Linked DNA regions of Homo sapiens: region 2 is linked to region 1. The links come from fine-mapping of genetic effects on gene expression. Tissue or cell type: whole blood. Region 1 holds a variant in brackets; the other region holds the start of a gene. All regions are shown on one strand. Distances are between the middles of the regions.

Evidence for each region. PIP is the estimated chance that this variant, and not a neighbour inherited with it, causes the effect.
Region 2: it holds the start of SNX18, and the variant in region 1 is fine-mapped to the expression of SNX18 in whole blood (TOPMed, PIP above 0.99).

Annotation. Positions count from the first base shown.
Region 1 is chr5:54,586,260-54,594,446 of GRCh38, reverse strand. It overlaps a transcript of SNX18 not described here. Among named protein-coding and RNA genes, the nearest start is that of SNX18, 73 kb to the right of the region's middle. The variant A/G (reference allele first, on the strand shown) is at 3,431.
Region 2 is chr5:54,513,209-54,521,395 of GRCh38, reverse strand. It overlaps SNX18 (sorting nexin 18), which reads right to left and starts at 3,637. Exons shown (of 2, transcript NM_001102575.2): 1 at 1,823-3,637. The coding sequence starts at 3,443. RefSeq lists an enhancer at 1,785-2,729 and silencers at 3,202-3,761, 3,642-3,883.

The sequences.
Region 1 (8,187 bases):
AGAGCCAACCTTCCAAGCAGGCCTTTCTAAGAATAGCAACCTCAGATTGGCTGTGTTAACTCTTTTCTGCACATAAGGGTACAGTCTCATGAGTTTTGACAAATGCATATGGTCACACAATCAGCACCACAAGGCATATTTTCCAAAAGTTTCCTTATGTCCCTTTGCAGTTAGACACTTGCCCTGGCTCCATGCAAAGACTGATCTGCTTTCTAACACTAAAGTTTTGCTTTTTCTAAAATTTCATACAAATGAAATAATATAGCCTGTAATCTTTTGCATTTGGCATCTTTCACTTAGTATTGTGCTTTTGAGATTACCATATTGTTGCATGTATCAGCAGTTTATTCCTTGGTAATGCTGAGTAGGGTTGCTTTGTATGAACATGAAACAATTTACTTATCATTTATTTTTATGGCTCTTTTATGGCAATTATCTGTTTTATAGCTCATGCCTCTGTTGCCTCTCTAGGAAATGTTTGTCTACCCAAGATCACAAGGATTTCTTATCTTTTCTTTAAGTTTTATAGTTTTAACTCTTATCATTAGGTCTATGATCCATTTCAAGTTGAGTTTTCCATAATAGATGAAGACTGAAATTCATTTTTTTCCTATGTAGATATCCAATTGTTTCTACACCATTTGTTGAGAGGACTATACCTTCCCCATGGAATTACCTTAGCACCTCTGTCAAAATCAGTTAGCAATATATGAATGGGCCCAGGTTAAGAATAGTTTTTTCAGTAGTCTATATGTCTATCCTTTCACCAACACCACACTCTGTGGATTACTGTAGCTTTAAGTCTAGAAATCGGGTCATATAAGTGTTCCAAGTTCGTTCATCTTTCTCAAATTTGTTTTGGCTCTTCCAGGTTCTTTGTATTTTCATATACACTTTAGAACATGATCATCAATTTCTACAAAAAATACTGCTGAGATTTTGACAGGTAATGAGTTGGATCTATAGATCATTTTGTGGATAATTAATGTCTTAACAATATTCAATCTTCAATCTTCCAATCTATGAACATGGTATATCTGTCAATTTATTAAGGCCCAGACTCTATTCTTAACTTGCTGTAGTTTCTCCCCACTCCAATCTCCAGGATCAGTCAAGAAAGACTTTTTACTTTTATTTTTACTTTTGAGCCCCATTAGGTTCTGAAGGAAAGATTTCTTATACAGTGAGTTACAGGAAAATATATTAATGATTTAATGTAAATTAAAATGTCTACAATTAAAATTCCTTCCAGAGAAAATTGCAACTTTCACTTACCTATATTCCTGAAGGTAGATCCCTTAGAATTTTTTTCATAGAGCAGCCGACTATCAATAATATATTTGTGGGGCCAGGCATAGTGGCTCATGCCTGTAATCCCAGTACTTTGGGAGGCTGAGGCGTGTGGATCACATGAGGTCAGGGGTTTGAGACCAGCCTGGCCAACATGATGAAACCCGGTCTCTACTAAAAATACAAAAATTAGCAAGGTGTGGTGGCACACGCCTATAATCCCAGCTACTTGGGAGGCTGAGGCATGAGAATCGCTTGAACCTGGGAGGTGGAGGTTGCAGTGAGCTGAGATTGCTCCACTGCACTCCAGCCTAGATGACAGAGTGAGACTCCATCTCAAAAACAAAAACAGAATTGTGATTTTTCTAGGGTAAGGACTCAGCAAGAGGCAGAAATGAGAACAAACCCACGTCATTATCATCTTACATTGAAAATCCACTGCTCTCCTATGTTGGCAAGTGTAGAACATTTATCCAAAGGCAAAGCTCAGTCTCCCTATGTTATTCATGCATTGCCCTGTTACAGTCAAGCCAATTGTGGGAGACAGTGTCAGTGTCCTCGGATTGAATTGTTGACTGACCACAAGTTAATTTAGTCATGTTTTGTTCATTAAGCTTCACGATCATCATCTCAGTAATTTTACCAGTGAAAGTGTCCGTGGGTCCAGAGCTAACCAGTGCCAGGCAACCATTGAGAATTAGATCTGTCTTGCACATTCAGGGAAGCCATGTGTCCACAAATGGAGAGCAATTTGTTGTCCATGGGCTTTGATTTCACAAGTGCTAGGAGTTAGTTACTTCTAGAAGAATTCCTGGCACCTCTGTAACACCCATCTGAGAAGAGTGTCGTGAGGTGGAGGCAGCTCAGGTGAGATGAAGAAAAGAAGGGAAGGTTGATTCTGGAGTTGTGGAGGCCAAATTCGGCAGATCTCACATGAAGTGTCCCAGGTCACCATGTGTGGGAAGGAAGTGGGAGGCGAGGGTATAGTAAAGGGGCAGATGAAGAAAAGCAATAGCTCCCCTCTGGCACATTTCCCAAGTGAAGCCTTTTGAACAATTTTGAAAGTGATATGTTGCCATCACATTTGTTAAAGACCATAAGAGCCACTAGCCTGACTTTTGCTTTCACAGGGCACCTTATGATTAATAAACAATTGAAATATGGACAGAGTAAGCAAAGTACAGAAGGTAGTTATATCAGCCAGGATAGGCCAAGATATTTGTTAGCAACAAACAATCTCCAAAACTCGTAGTGGCTTAAAACAACAAATATTTATTTCTTGCACATGCAAAGCTCATTGGGGGTCAGGGTGACTCTCCTCAGGTGACAGCTCAATGATCCAGGATTCTTTGCTCTTGTGGCACCTCTGTCTAAAAACACATTTGTATGCACTGCTCTGACAACTGTGACTGGGGCAAAGTGTGGAAGCTCTTAATTCTTATGCCAATGCAAGTCACATGGTTACACCTAACTTCGAAAGGGCAGAAAAGATATTTCTCTTTCTACTAGGAGGTAAAGGAGAACATTAGTGACATCTACCACAGTAGTCAAAGGGGGACATCATTTTGAGTGCTCACAGTGCCACCAACAAATGGTGCAAGCTTTCCTGCCCACCTTCCCTTGCATGGCTCTGTGCTCAGCACTTTGCAGCCAAAGGTCCAAGACAGGCTGAGCATGGTGGCTCACACCTGTAATCCCAGCACTTTGGGAGGCCAAGGCAGGAGGATTGTTTGGGCCAAGGAGTTCGAGACCAGCCTGGGCAATATAGCAAGACCCCATTGCTACAAAAAGTAATAATACAATTTAAAAATTAGCCAGGAGATGTACAGCAGGCCTGTAGTCCCAGCTACTCTGGGGGCTGAGGTGGGAAGATTGCTTGAACCCAGGAGGTTGAGGCTGTAATGAACTATGATCACACCACTGCACTCTAGCCTGGCTGACAGAACAAAAGCGTGTCTCAAAAAAACAAAACAAAACAAAAAAAAAACCCAAAAAACAAAAAAGCAAGGTCTGGGTCAAATCTCAGAATGTGGTCAAGAGTGGTACCTTTAGGTGTTTATTCCTGTAATTTATGGAAGCTGACAGTGCTTCTGAGACAGGGAGAGAGATGAGGACATCAGGGGAAGGAAGAAAAAAGGAG[A/G]AGTGAGGGGGGATGGGGAGGATGAGCTGAACTTCACTTACTTTACTCTGTTTCTTTAGCTTTCACTAAGCCATGCCAGTGAGGGGAGAATTCATATCAAATGAACATTTACTCATCATGCACCAAGTGGCGAGCGTCAGGCAGGAGATAACCATGCCATGCTTCCTGCCCTCATGGAGCTCAGGATCTAGGGAGGAAGGGAGACCAGTAAGCAAGCAACGGATTACACACTAGCCGTGTGGACAGGATGCCGAAGCAGGGGACTGTCTGAGAAAAAAGGGCTTGGGTTTGAAACATGTCATCATACTTTTTTTCAAAAATGTATTTTCCTTCCCATTTAATGTCTGCTTAGTTGGATATCTAAATAGGTTTGCATTTTTGGAATAAAGACCAAAGATTGGGGTTGGGGTTGGGGAGAGCTAGTCAGGTATAAGTAGGGGGTCACTGACCAGGGCGAAATCCACATCACCTGCACTAGCTACACTCCTGCCAGTAGCTGTCAGATCAAAAGCAATGATCACATGGATCTGGCTTAGGGAGACAGGCCTTATCTGTTGCAGTTTCTGCTCAAAAGAAACCAATAATCTGACTTAGGCTTTAACAAAGAATGGCACTAAAACAAAAGGGGCTTAGGGAAGTGATTCAGAGTAGGATTCTCAACTATTTCAGTTACTAGAAATGCCCCCCGTCTAGAACTACATAAATCAAACACCCTCTGCTGGACTCAACTCCTCACAGAAGCTGACACATCTGACAGCATTGGAAATACTCCTTTTGGCCTTACTAGCCAGCATCAGAGGGAATGGATTGCTATCTCATTTGAATTTCTAACTACTGAAACATATTGGAAGAAGTCAACTGGAAGAGGCCATGTCTACTTTACCTCAAGAGGAAAGTGGCTACAGTTTGCCTTAAGACTTGGAGAGGGCTGGGTGCAGTGGCTCACGCCTATAATACCAGCACTGTGGGAGGTCCAGACAGGAGGATGGCTTGAGGCTAGGAGTTTGAGACCAGCCTGAGCAACATAGTAAATGCACATCTCCACAAAGAATTTTAAAAATTAGCTGGTCATGGTTGTGTGTGCCTGTAGTCCCAGCTACTCGGGAGGCTGAGGTGGGAGAATGATCTCGCCACTGCATTCCAGCTTAGTTGAGAGAGCAAGACTCTGTCTCAAACAAAGACGTGGAGAGAAAACTTCTCTGTAGGAGTTAGAAGAGAATCAATATCACAGGGCCCTGGTTTCCTCTAGTTTTGCAGAATCCATTGACTGGGCATTTCCCCCTCTGGCCAGTAGAAGTAATATTAGAGCAGCATCTTCACTTTCAAAGGTCAGCTTTGGGAAGGAAACGACTTCTCTTCCAAGCTCACGGCCTGTTGGGCACCCCCATAGAGTTTGGCTTTAGGTGCTTGCCGAAGGTTAAATGATTTTCATACCTGACTAATTCTTTGTACTTCAAATTCTTTCTTCATTTTGAAATATACCTCTTAAGTGGTTTAGAGGACTCAACCTATCGTGCAACCAAAACTTTGCTTTTTACCCCACTTCTTTAATGTTCCCTGAAGGGGAATGGAATTTTTTCCCTTAAGTTAAGAAGGCATATGTGTGGTGAGGGGAGAAAAGCTGGCCCTCGTGCCTCAGGGTTTGCCACACAAGCAAATATAGCTCCTTCAACAAGGCACAGCTTGGGCAGAGACACAGGGGTCTCTGGAAGGGAAAGGCCACAGGGATCATGGAGGGCAGCTGCCCTGAGAGCCGGCAGCTAGTGAAATGGAACAAATTACTAGGCAGAAGGAAAGAAATGAGAGGAAAAGGGATGCAACTTAGAGGACTGGCCTGGGGGAACAGAAGGTGACCGCAGGGCAGGGGGTTGGGGGTGTCAATGTATATGTGCAACTTTCAGGTTAAACTGCCTAGTCATATTTTCACTTTTGTCTTAATAGTTTCAACCTTCTATAAGATAAGATTAGTGTGCTCTTAAAGCTCTGAAATCATAGTGGTTTAAAGACAATAGAAGTTTATTTTTCTCTTATATAAACAGTCCAGAGCTAGTATAGTTGCTCCACAGACATGGTTCCCAAACTATGCACCCAGGCACCACAGGATACCATGGTAAATTTTTCTTATTCAAAGAAAATTCAGTGATACCTTGACATTTGTCATATTACTAGCTTGAGGTAGTTCAGAGTTCAAACCTCAGATCTTGTTACATTCTCTTTGATGATATCATACCTTTGCAAAGCTGGGTTTTCAGTGGCTGGTCTGATAAAATGCAAGTAAATGACAGTACTGTTACCCAATGTGATCCCAAGGTTTGAGAAGGTGTACAGTGCTCAACAGGTGCACGCATCCCACTAGTAAGTGATTGTGGTTATTTAAGAACAGAAATAAGAGCTGGGTGCGGTGGCTCACGCCTGTAATCCCAGCACTTTGGGAGGCTGAGGTGGGTGGATCATGAGGTCAGGAGATCGAGACCATCCTGGCTAACATGGTGAAACCCCATCTCTACTAAAAATACAAAAAATTAGTTAGGCGTGGTGGTGGGTGCCTGTGGTCCCAGCTGCTCGGGAGGCTGAGGCAGGAGAATGGTGTGAACCTGGGAGGCAGAGCTTGCAGTGAGCTGAGATCACGCCACTGCACTCCAGCCTGGGTGAAAGTGAGAGACTCCGTCTCAAAAAAAAAAAAAAAAAAAAAAAAAAAAAAAAAAAAAAAGAATAGAAATAACAGTATTTTTTCTTTCAATGTATTTGAATTATTTTTTTTTCAAATGACTTCTAAGTTGTTAGGACATAGCAAATTGCTTAGATACAACTGCCTAGAAACAGAATTTTTAGGCATTCTTTTGGCCTAGAGTCAATATGAAAAAATTATGGCGACACTATACTATGAAACGAGAGTGTTTGGGAACTTCTGCCACTGAGTACTGGTGTCAGAAATCCAGATTTCCTTGATTGGGTTGCTTGGATTCCCTAGAAGATTGGCTTCTTCCGCAACTTGTCCTCCTTCTATGAAAGGAGAAAGGGCAAAAGGGGTGTACACCTTCCTCTCATGGACACAACCTGGCAGATGGCCTCATCACATTCGTTCACAATCCATTGTCCAGGATGTCATCTTATGCCCACATCTAACTGCAAGGGAAGCACAGACAGTCACACTGTATCCTTGATGGCCACGTGCCTTAAAAAATATTGGGGATTTTGGTGCTGTGCACAAAAGTGAAAGAATGGAAATAGGTGACCACTTGTAGTCTCTACCACAGACCATCTGAATTGAAAGCAATGGTGCTGTACCCCTCCACTCTTAATGAATGGTGGTGTTTTCAACATCATATTAACTGCCAAGTGAACTAAAGAAGAGCAGCAGGCTCTGAGAGCATTGCAGGGTTCAGTAGAAGGGATTGGAACACTGGCAGCACCAACAATGAGTGCATGCCGTGTGCAGGTGCAAGTAATTGGGCACCACGGAGAGAAAGGACATTAAGGAGTTTTTTGCTTTTGGAAGTTATTGACAAGTTTTTAGTCTATAGAGATGAAAACATTAATTCACCTTTGGAGCACAGTCCTTTATTCTGGTAAGAGCAATTCTCTTTTCCAGCAGAAGACGCAATAGATTATGTCTTTGCCTTGGCCAGGGACTATTATTTATATACTGTTGATGTATATAGTACTTAATAGGATATAAATAACCACTTGTTTACAGAAAACCACTTGTTTACATACCAACCTGTTTATAACCTTTTGTTTACATACCAACTTTTACGTAAGGACAATTCCCTTCTTTTTTTGAGATACAAAATTATTAAAAGATATTGGATGGACTAGGGTACTCAAAATAAGACTTGAATGGATTCTCAGATTTAAATAATTTGCCATGAGATTAGAGGTTCACTGTTGAGCTGGCTGTTCCCCAAAAGCTGAATATCCCAGGGGAATATCTGTTCAGACCTGTGAGGCTTTAACTCTGCCATCAGGAGTTTGGAGTAATAGACTTCCTCCCTAAAAGAGGGGCTGCTCAGGAAAAAAAAAAAAAAAGGAAATAAATTCCCATTAACCTTACAGAGTGCTCACCTCTTTCTCCAGCAAGGGTTCCTTCCTCTGCTGTATTTGTGAGACATATCTATATTTATATACAAATGCCTGTTCATGAGTCAGGCCACTCTCCTCTGTATCATGGGCTCCTTCCATCCTTGGCTTGCCCTGACTTTGCTGCTGGCTTCATAGCAGGGTGACATGGAGCAAGCTATGATCCTACTATGTATGGTCTGAATGTCTCCTCTAAAACTCATGTTGAAATTCAATTGCCATTGTGATAGTATTAAGAGGTAGGACCTTTAAGAAGTGATTAGGCCATAAGGGCTCCGCGCTCATGAATGGATTAATGCTGTTATTAATGGGTTAGTTATCACAGAAGTGGGGTTTTCATTAAACAATGAGTTCAGCTTGATTTAATCCGTGTCTTGCACGCTCATATTCCTTCTGCCCCTCTGTCATGGGGTGACCCTTGCCAGATGCCAGTGCCATGTTCTTGGACTTTCCAGCCTCTAGAACCATGAGTCAAATCAACATTTTTTTTTCTTTTTAAATTACCTACTCTGCAGTATTCTCTTATAGCAGCAGAAAATGGACTAATATAGCCCCCATGGCCAGCTCTGCTCTGTCCCTCATTTCCCCACGGCATCATCACGCCAGGCTGCAGATGTAAATAGTTGCTAGTGAAGGACTTGGTGGCTAGAGGATATAATACACAGGAGAAAAACTTA
Region 2 (8,187 bases), 73 kb after region 1:
ACCATTGCTGTAAACTCAAAATAGATATTAGAACACACACCATACCTTTTCTAATATATAATTTCAAAAGCAGGCCATTTGACAAAGCCTGAGTGCATGGTGTGATTGACAGTGAATGAACTGATGCCAACCTAAAGTAGACAGACACCAGCGGCCCAGCACACATGTCCAAGTGTCTGTACTTGGTTCCATCCTTTCAACTGTTCACCAGTAATTTGCACAAACTCACAGAAATGTGTAAAAGGGCAGCCAGCATAGGTCCAGAATGATGTAACACAATGGAATTTAAATGCTAAATCCCTCCATTAAAGGCTCACAAAGGCAGTTCCACCAACACCAGTCAAAAAAGTCAAAGATTCATAACAATTTATGTTTTAAAAAAAGGCATAGGTAATGTAAATACAGGTTTAATACAGGCCAACAGCAATATGATTGCACAAAAAACGAATTCAATATTAGACTGCATTTACAAATCGCAAATTGCCAAGAAAGTTACTACTGTCTACTAAAATTAGTACTGATGTCCAGGGTACTCCCTTTCAGCGGCAGCAACAAGACTGAAAACGTTTGATCATTCTCCCAGCAAGCCCCTTCCCCCATAGGAGTCAGAAGACCAGTCACGCATTTGGAAGGGGAAGGAGAGAAGCAGAGAGGAAGGAAGCGAGACTGCTGTCTCCAAATGTCTGAAGGCGGTCCCAGGGAACAGAAAGACAATCAAGGGAGGCAAACTTCAGTTCAATACAAGAAAAGACATGCCAGAGATCAGGGTTGCTCATAAACGGACTGGCCCACCAGAAAGGCAGTGAGCACTTCACCAGTAAAGGCCAGACCCGCTGAGGAAACAGGGACAGTAGGTTTCCCTGCTCAGGAGTAGGTTTCCCTGCCCAGCCGCCCCTACACTGGACTTTCACAGGCAAGACTGCCTCCCTAACTCCCACACCTCCCCATTCTCTCAATCAAGGCATTATATGAGAATGCACATTAGTAAGAAATGTTAAGACAAGCACTACTGCTATATATTTTTTTAATTTGCAAATTCTGGTGCTTTAGCAAAGGTCAGAGACACTAACAACTATTAATAACTCATGAACTCTGATAGTTGGACAGCTAACTCACTGGGATACCAGCAACGCTGCTCTCAGATCCAATACTCAGATTATATTCATTCTATGTAGTTTCCCTAAACAATTTTCCTAAACAACGTTCTCAATTTCAGTACATTAATAGATTTCAAACTCAAAATGAGTACGCTTTTCCTGAAATTACTTCACTTCGTAAAGGTTGCAGGCAAGAATTCTTTGCAGGAATTTCTTAAACTCAGAGAATTGATCTTAATTCCTCTACCAAAGCAGAGATTGAGAGGTGTGGAAGGGTGAAAGCAGATTTCTATTTACAGACATCCGTTCTTCTCCATTATTTCCTCACTTTTTGAAACTCACCACTAAGTGACAGTGCAGTGTTCAAACAGATACCTAACATGGTTTAGGTCCCCTTCTAATTCTACCCTCGTCTCAAGATTACAGATTTGAGCAGCTCATTACTCAACTATTCAAACTCTAAAATGATAGCACTGTCATCAAAGGTACTCTTTGAACCTTCGAGAAAGAGTACTCATTCCCTAATGCAAGATACTCGAGGAGGAAGCTGCCTGTCGAGCAATCCAACTTACACTCTAGGGAAAAGACCCAGGCGTCCACGTCTCTGCTCGCTTCCTCACCTGTAGAATATGATTCTGAAACCCACAGTGGTACTGCTGTCAAAGTCGCCCCTTTCAGCCTGCACAATACACTCCATATCACCTGCTCTAAGGGCCAGGCTTTACCTTTCTGAACGTGGATGATGTCCGGGAAGTTAGCCAGATGCCCCTGATACAGCGCTAATAGGTCCATGACGGGATCCAGGTCCTGCCTGGGCTGCTCCGCGAAGAGCTCGCCAATGGCGTCATAGGCATCTCCGGTGAAGGCGATAGCCTGGTTCAGGCCCACCGAGAAGGCCTGCTGGTCCAGCTCAAAGGCCTGGCTGAGGCCGCGGAAGGACTGGCCCACCTTCTGATACTCCTTTTTGAAGCCGGTCACCTGCTTGCGCGCGAACTCGTTGGCCGTGTGGTTGAGCTGCAGCGCGCTGTCGTCCATCTTCTTGGTGAAGCACTTGAAGCCGTCGATCTTGCTCTCCACCTCCTGCAGGTCAAGGGCAGCGGCGGGGGGCGTGCTAAGGGTCAGGAAGAAGTTGGCGCCCACCATCTCGTCCTTCTCGGCCTTCCTCTTGCCCTGCTTCCAGGCTTTCTCGTCGGTGCTGCTGGGGCACGTCAGGAAGTGCTGGAAGACGTCGCACTGCGCCAGCACTGGGTGGCTGGCCATGTGGTTCATCCACCAGATCAGGCCCTTCCTGCGCTTAGAGATGAAGTCCTCCTCGAAGCGGCCGGTGGCCTGCTTCTCGGGCAGGTGGGGCACGGAGATGACCGGGAACTTCTCCGCCAGGCGCGCGTACAGCCAGTCGAAGTGCTTGTAGCGCCGATGCACCGGCACCTGCGTGTGCGTGGGCACCAGCTTGTAGGAGATGTAGCTCTTCATGCCCTTGAACTTGGTCTGCTTGGTGGGGTCGTCGATGGTGCACTGGAACGGGTAGGGGTTCTCCTGCCACTCGGGGCCATAGGGCCCCAGCACCACGCACAGCTTGTCCCCGTCCTTCACGAAGCCTGACGCCTCCCCCAGCACGAAGGCCTCCCCGCCGGACTTGACGAAGGTGGAGAAGCGATTGAGGTTGCGGCTCACGGTGGCCGAGCTCTTGGGCCCCGACGGGTGGTGCTGCGGGGGGACCGAGCCGCCGCGGGAACCCAGGGACAGGTCGGAGCGCGTGGACAGGCGGTAGCGGCCGGCTGCGCCCACACCCGCCGAAGACGAGCCGTCGAGGTCCGGGTATGCTCCGCTGCCCAGAGCGCCCGGCTCGTCCGCCACCGTGGAGCTGTCGTCCCACTCGTCGTCCCAGTCATCATCGCTGCCTTGGCTGGCCTGGTAGCCGCCGTAGAGCTGCTGAGGCGACGGCTGCAGGGCGCCCCCGCCGTACGGGAAGCCCGCGCCGGGCGGCTGGAAGGTGCTCGGAGGCGGCGCCTGCTGTGGCTGCAGCAGCGCCTGGAAGGCGTCAGGCGGCGGCTTGAAGGAGGCGGGGGGCGCGACAGGCAGGGGCTCGAAGCCCCCGGGGGGCACATTGGCGTAGCGGGCCGGGGCGCCCGGGCCGCCGTCTCCCGCCGGGCCAGGCTCGGGGGCGCGGATCACCTGCACATAGGAGGCCGGGAAGAGGCCGCGGTCGCCGCGGCTGTTGACCCCCTCGAGCCAGCCCTCGATGTCCTGCTCGCTGCACAGGCTCAGCACCTCGTGCTCTCGCAGCGAGATCTCTCCTGGGTTCTCCGACCTGAAGTCGTACAGCGCCCGGGCGCGCAGCGCCATGGTCCCGGCGCCCCGACTGGCGGTCCCGACTCCCGGCGTCCCGAGCCGAGGCCCACCTGAGGGGCCCGCGGTACTGCTCGAGCCCTGGCGCGCGGACTGGAGCCCCGAAGGCGGCAAACCCACGCTGCCCGGACCAGCCGGTCGCGCCCTCCGCGCGGCTCCGCTCGCAGCGCCTCCACTTCGCAGCGCCGACTGCCGCGCTGGGCCGCCGCAGCCGCCGCCGGTCGGGGGCGGGGCCCGCGGCCTCCCACGTCTCCAGCTGCGCTAATCCACGGCCGAGAGCCCCTTGCCAGGCGAGAGCAAGCGATGGCCGAGCCGCCGAGCCCACCGCCCGCGTCGGCTTTGCGGCGGCCACTGCCCTCTAGTGGCCGGTGCCGCGAAGCCGGGCGCCGTAGTGAGCGCGGCTGAAGGAGGTTTCTACTCCGAAGTGAATTATCTGAGATTTCTTTAGGCTTTTAAGTTAAACATTCTCTAGAAAGTAAGTTAGCATTTGCATGCCTGATAAACGTTCCCACTCTGAGCGCTCAGTGAATGCTCCTAGAATGGCAACCCAGTCATGTAATAAAGCATTTTGCAATGCGAATTAGTGATTGCACTAAGAAAACAGGATGCCTCTGCGGAGGAGCTGTTCACCTACAGAGCAGGCTCCCTTCCCTCTTCTGCTCAAGGAGAGGAGATTGGCAAGAACAAAGTAAGGGCCAGGGAAGGTGCTGTGATTGACAAAATTAGAAGCAAAGGATCATGTAGAGAGGGAGGAGCTGGAGAGTTTCCAGTACAATAAATGCTCACACATTTATTACATGCATGTGTCGCCTATCCTCCCATAGATATATGTAGTGCGGTGAATGAGAGCTCAAACTTCGGAGCCAGGCTTCTGAATTTCAATCTGTGTTCTGACACTACCTAGCTGTATGACCTGGAACAAGGCACTTATATCGTACCTACCTCCGGGGGTTGTTGTGGGGATTCCATCATAAAGTAATCCCTATTTTACAGATGAGGAAAGTGAAACAATATCTGGCAGGGTAAGCAGATTTGAAGGGTTTGTTGCTGCTTTTGCTGCTGTTACTGTTATTTGGGGGAAGCAAAATCCCTGGCCTCTTTCACAAAGGGAATAGGGGTACTAAACTAACAATTGCAGGGTACATGCACCAGGAAGCGTCCCAATGTTCACATTGCCACTCCTAGTAAGAGGTCAGTGACCATCCATCCATCTGTTGTCTCTATGTCTCACTATATTTATATTATTTTTAAGATAAATAGAACAAAAATCACTTCCTGAAATAATCAGCTCCAATCTATCGTTGCCTTGTTTCCTATCTTCCTTTCCTTCAGTGTATAATTTGCCCAAAGCTTTTTCTTCTCTTAATCCCCTCTTATTAAGTCTAGCCTAATTATTCCTTTGAAGACACTTCTAATTGAGGTTCTGCATTCATGTGTCATTAATTTCAGCCTGTCCTCTGACCCTTTTCAAGGAAACCTGGGAAACGGGCCAGAAGAGTGTACAATTATTCTAAGGGCTGTGGTATTGTAAGCATCTTGCACAAAAACACAAACCCACTATACCAGAATCACTCCCACAGTGTTTATCCTAATGCAAAACCTTAATTCAATTCAGTAAGCATATTCTAAATTACATTTTTAGCTGAAAATTCTGGGTTTTGACTATTCTCACAGTAAGCAACAGGGATCATTGAATTTCAATGCCAACATTTCATGTGGTCAGAAACATGAAGTCCACATTAACTAAACCTCTAGAATATGACTCATTTTACTTCTGAAAAGCTAACCTAGAATATGTAAGATAAATAAATTTAGTTTCGCCCCTTCTGTTCGTTTAGTAGTTACTTTTTAGATTAGAGTTAAGTACAGTAACTTTGGGCTTATTTCAGGTGTGAAAATTCCAGGAGTTTAAGGTGATGATTTTTTACAGACTGGTTGAGCTACTCTGTAGAAATGGTGGTTGAGGAATTATTGGGTGTCCAAGGTTGTTTGTAGCACTGGGGCATGGGCGTCTGCAGGTGCTTACTTTGTAGGAGTCCAGTGGGAGGCCTCTGTGCTTGCCGCGCATCAGGCTTCCAGAAGGATGAGGACAGGCTGTCATGATGTTTGGCCCTATGGCCACTAGTGGCAGGAAAACCCCTACCTCTAGAGGGTCTTAGATATGTAGAAAATTGTGCTCCAGTATTAACAACCTATAACTGTTCACTCAGGGAAATAGATACAGTAACACATTTTGTAAAGATTTCTCTAGAAAATGGAGCATATTATTCACAGTTTAGTTTACACAATCATTATAACCACCCATATGCTTCTGTAAAGTTTTTAGGGGACACTAAATGACCCCAAACAATTGCATTTTCTTACTTCCTCCCTTGGCCTGAGAGGCCTTAGATAGCCTGGCCCTTGGCTATCTTTCCAGCCCCCTTTTCCACTGAAAGAAGCCACAGTGGTTGCTTTGCTATTTTTGGGACAAGTCAAGCACGTTTCTTGCTGAAGTTTTTGCCTTCGCTTTTCTCTCTCCCTGGAGCCCTCTTCCCCGGGAGATCCACCATGCCACATCATCGCTTCATTCGGTCAGAACCATGGGGCTTTCCATCCCTCCTTTCTTCTCCTTCCTTGGAGATACCGGAAGACAGAGGGAGCCTGGGTCCCTGAGTCACCGACCCCAATCATACTTTGTGAGAGAAAAATCCTTTGTCCGACTAAGCCACTGAAATTTCAGAGATTGCTGAGGCAGCTGGTACTAATTATGCTAATATAATCTCCCTCCCTCCCTCCCATCCCCTGTCCATCCCACAGTCTCACTTTTCTTTGTAGCAACTATGACCTAAGATAAACACGTCTATACATTAACGGCCTCCCCTATTACAACATAAACCTTTTCAGGGCAATGAGGTTTTCTGAGCACTGAGGATATAGCAATGAACAAAACAGACATGTTAGGCAACCAGTTAGTATTTGTTAGATGAATGAAAGAATGTCCACTTACATCCTCCCTAGATGAAGTCAGCTCTCTCCAGTAGCTCTTATTGTGTCTGGGTCAGCTTGCCTGGTGCCCTCTGCCACCCAGCTGTAACTGTTTCTAAGGCAGCTAAGTAACACTCCTCTTTAAATCAACAACGTTAAAGGTAACACAACCACCCAGAACACCACTGCAAATTTTCAGATTGTTAGAAATTTCACTATTACAGAGTGGGTCATTATTAAAATTAACACTATATTTTACTTGAAAACACTCATGTAATGCATCAAGCATTACACAAATATGTACATATGATTTTAGATGCACTTACACCTTTCCTGTGTTATTTCCTGCCGTATTTTCACACCAACTCATCCATGCATGGAGCAGATATTGCCATCCCCACTATCCCAGATCAGGACAGCCAACTGCAGAGAGGGTCGTCTGCTGAGGTCAGGTGACTGAGGAATGACCCAGCAGCTACTCAGCTGTCCTGAGAACTTCGGTTCACTGTGTCACAGGTCTGCACTCTGCTGGCGCCTCAAAACTACTACTATTATTAAACAGCATCCAGGCCCAGCACAGTGGCTCACACCTACATATATATGTTTTATGTATATAAAAATTTATATATACAATTTTTTATTATTTATATATTATATATTATATATATTTTATATATAATATATAAAAATTTATATATACTATATTAAAATTTCTATATAATATATAAATTTATATATATCATATATATTTATATAATATATAAATTTATACATATGATATATATATTTATATATTATATAAATATATATATCATATATATTTATATATTATATAAATTTATATATATCATATATATTTATATATTATATAAATTTATATATATCATATATATTTATATATTATATAAATTTATATATATCATATATATTTATATATTATATAAATTTATATATATCATATATATTTATATATTATATAAATTTATATATATCATATATATTTATATATTATATAAATTTATATATATCATATATATTTATATATTATATAAATTTATATATATCATATATATTTATATATTATATAAATTTATATATATCATATATATTTATATATTATATAAATTTATATATATCATATATATTTATATATTATATATTTATATATTATATAAATTTATATATATCATATATATTTATATATTATATATTTATATATTATATAAATTTATATAATATAAAAGTTTATATATTATATATAAATATATATTATATATAAATTTATATATTATATAAAAATATATAATATATATAAATTTATATATTATATATAAATATATAATATATAAATTTATATATTATATATAAATATATATTATATATAAATTTATATATAAATAAAAATTATATAGGTATACATTTTATACATATGCGTGTATATATGTGTACACACACATGCGTGTGTATATGTGTGTACACACACATATGCACACACGTATATGTAATATTGTTTTATACTTTATATATTTTATATATTATAAATAAAGTAAAATGAAGAGCAACAGCCATTTACTAGAAGGTTTGTAGCTAGGCTTAATAGAAAGCCTGGCTCAAGCCTGCACTCCCAGCACTTTGGGAGGCCAAGGTGAGTGAATCACTTGAGGTCAAGAGTTCGAGAACAGCCTGGCCAACATGGCAAAACCCTGCCTCTACTAAAAATACAAAAAAATTAGCCATGCATGGTGGCACACACCTGTAGTCCCAGCTACTCAGG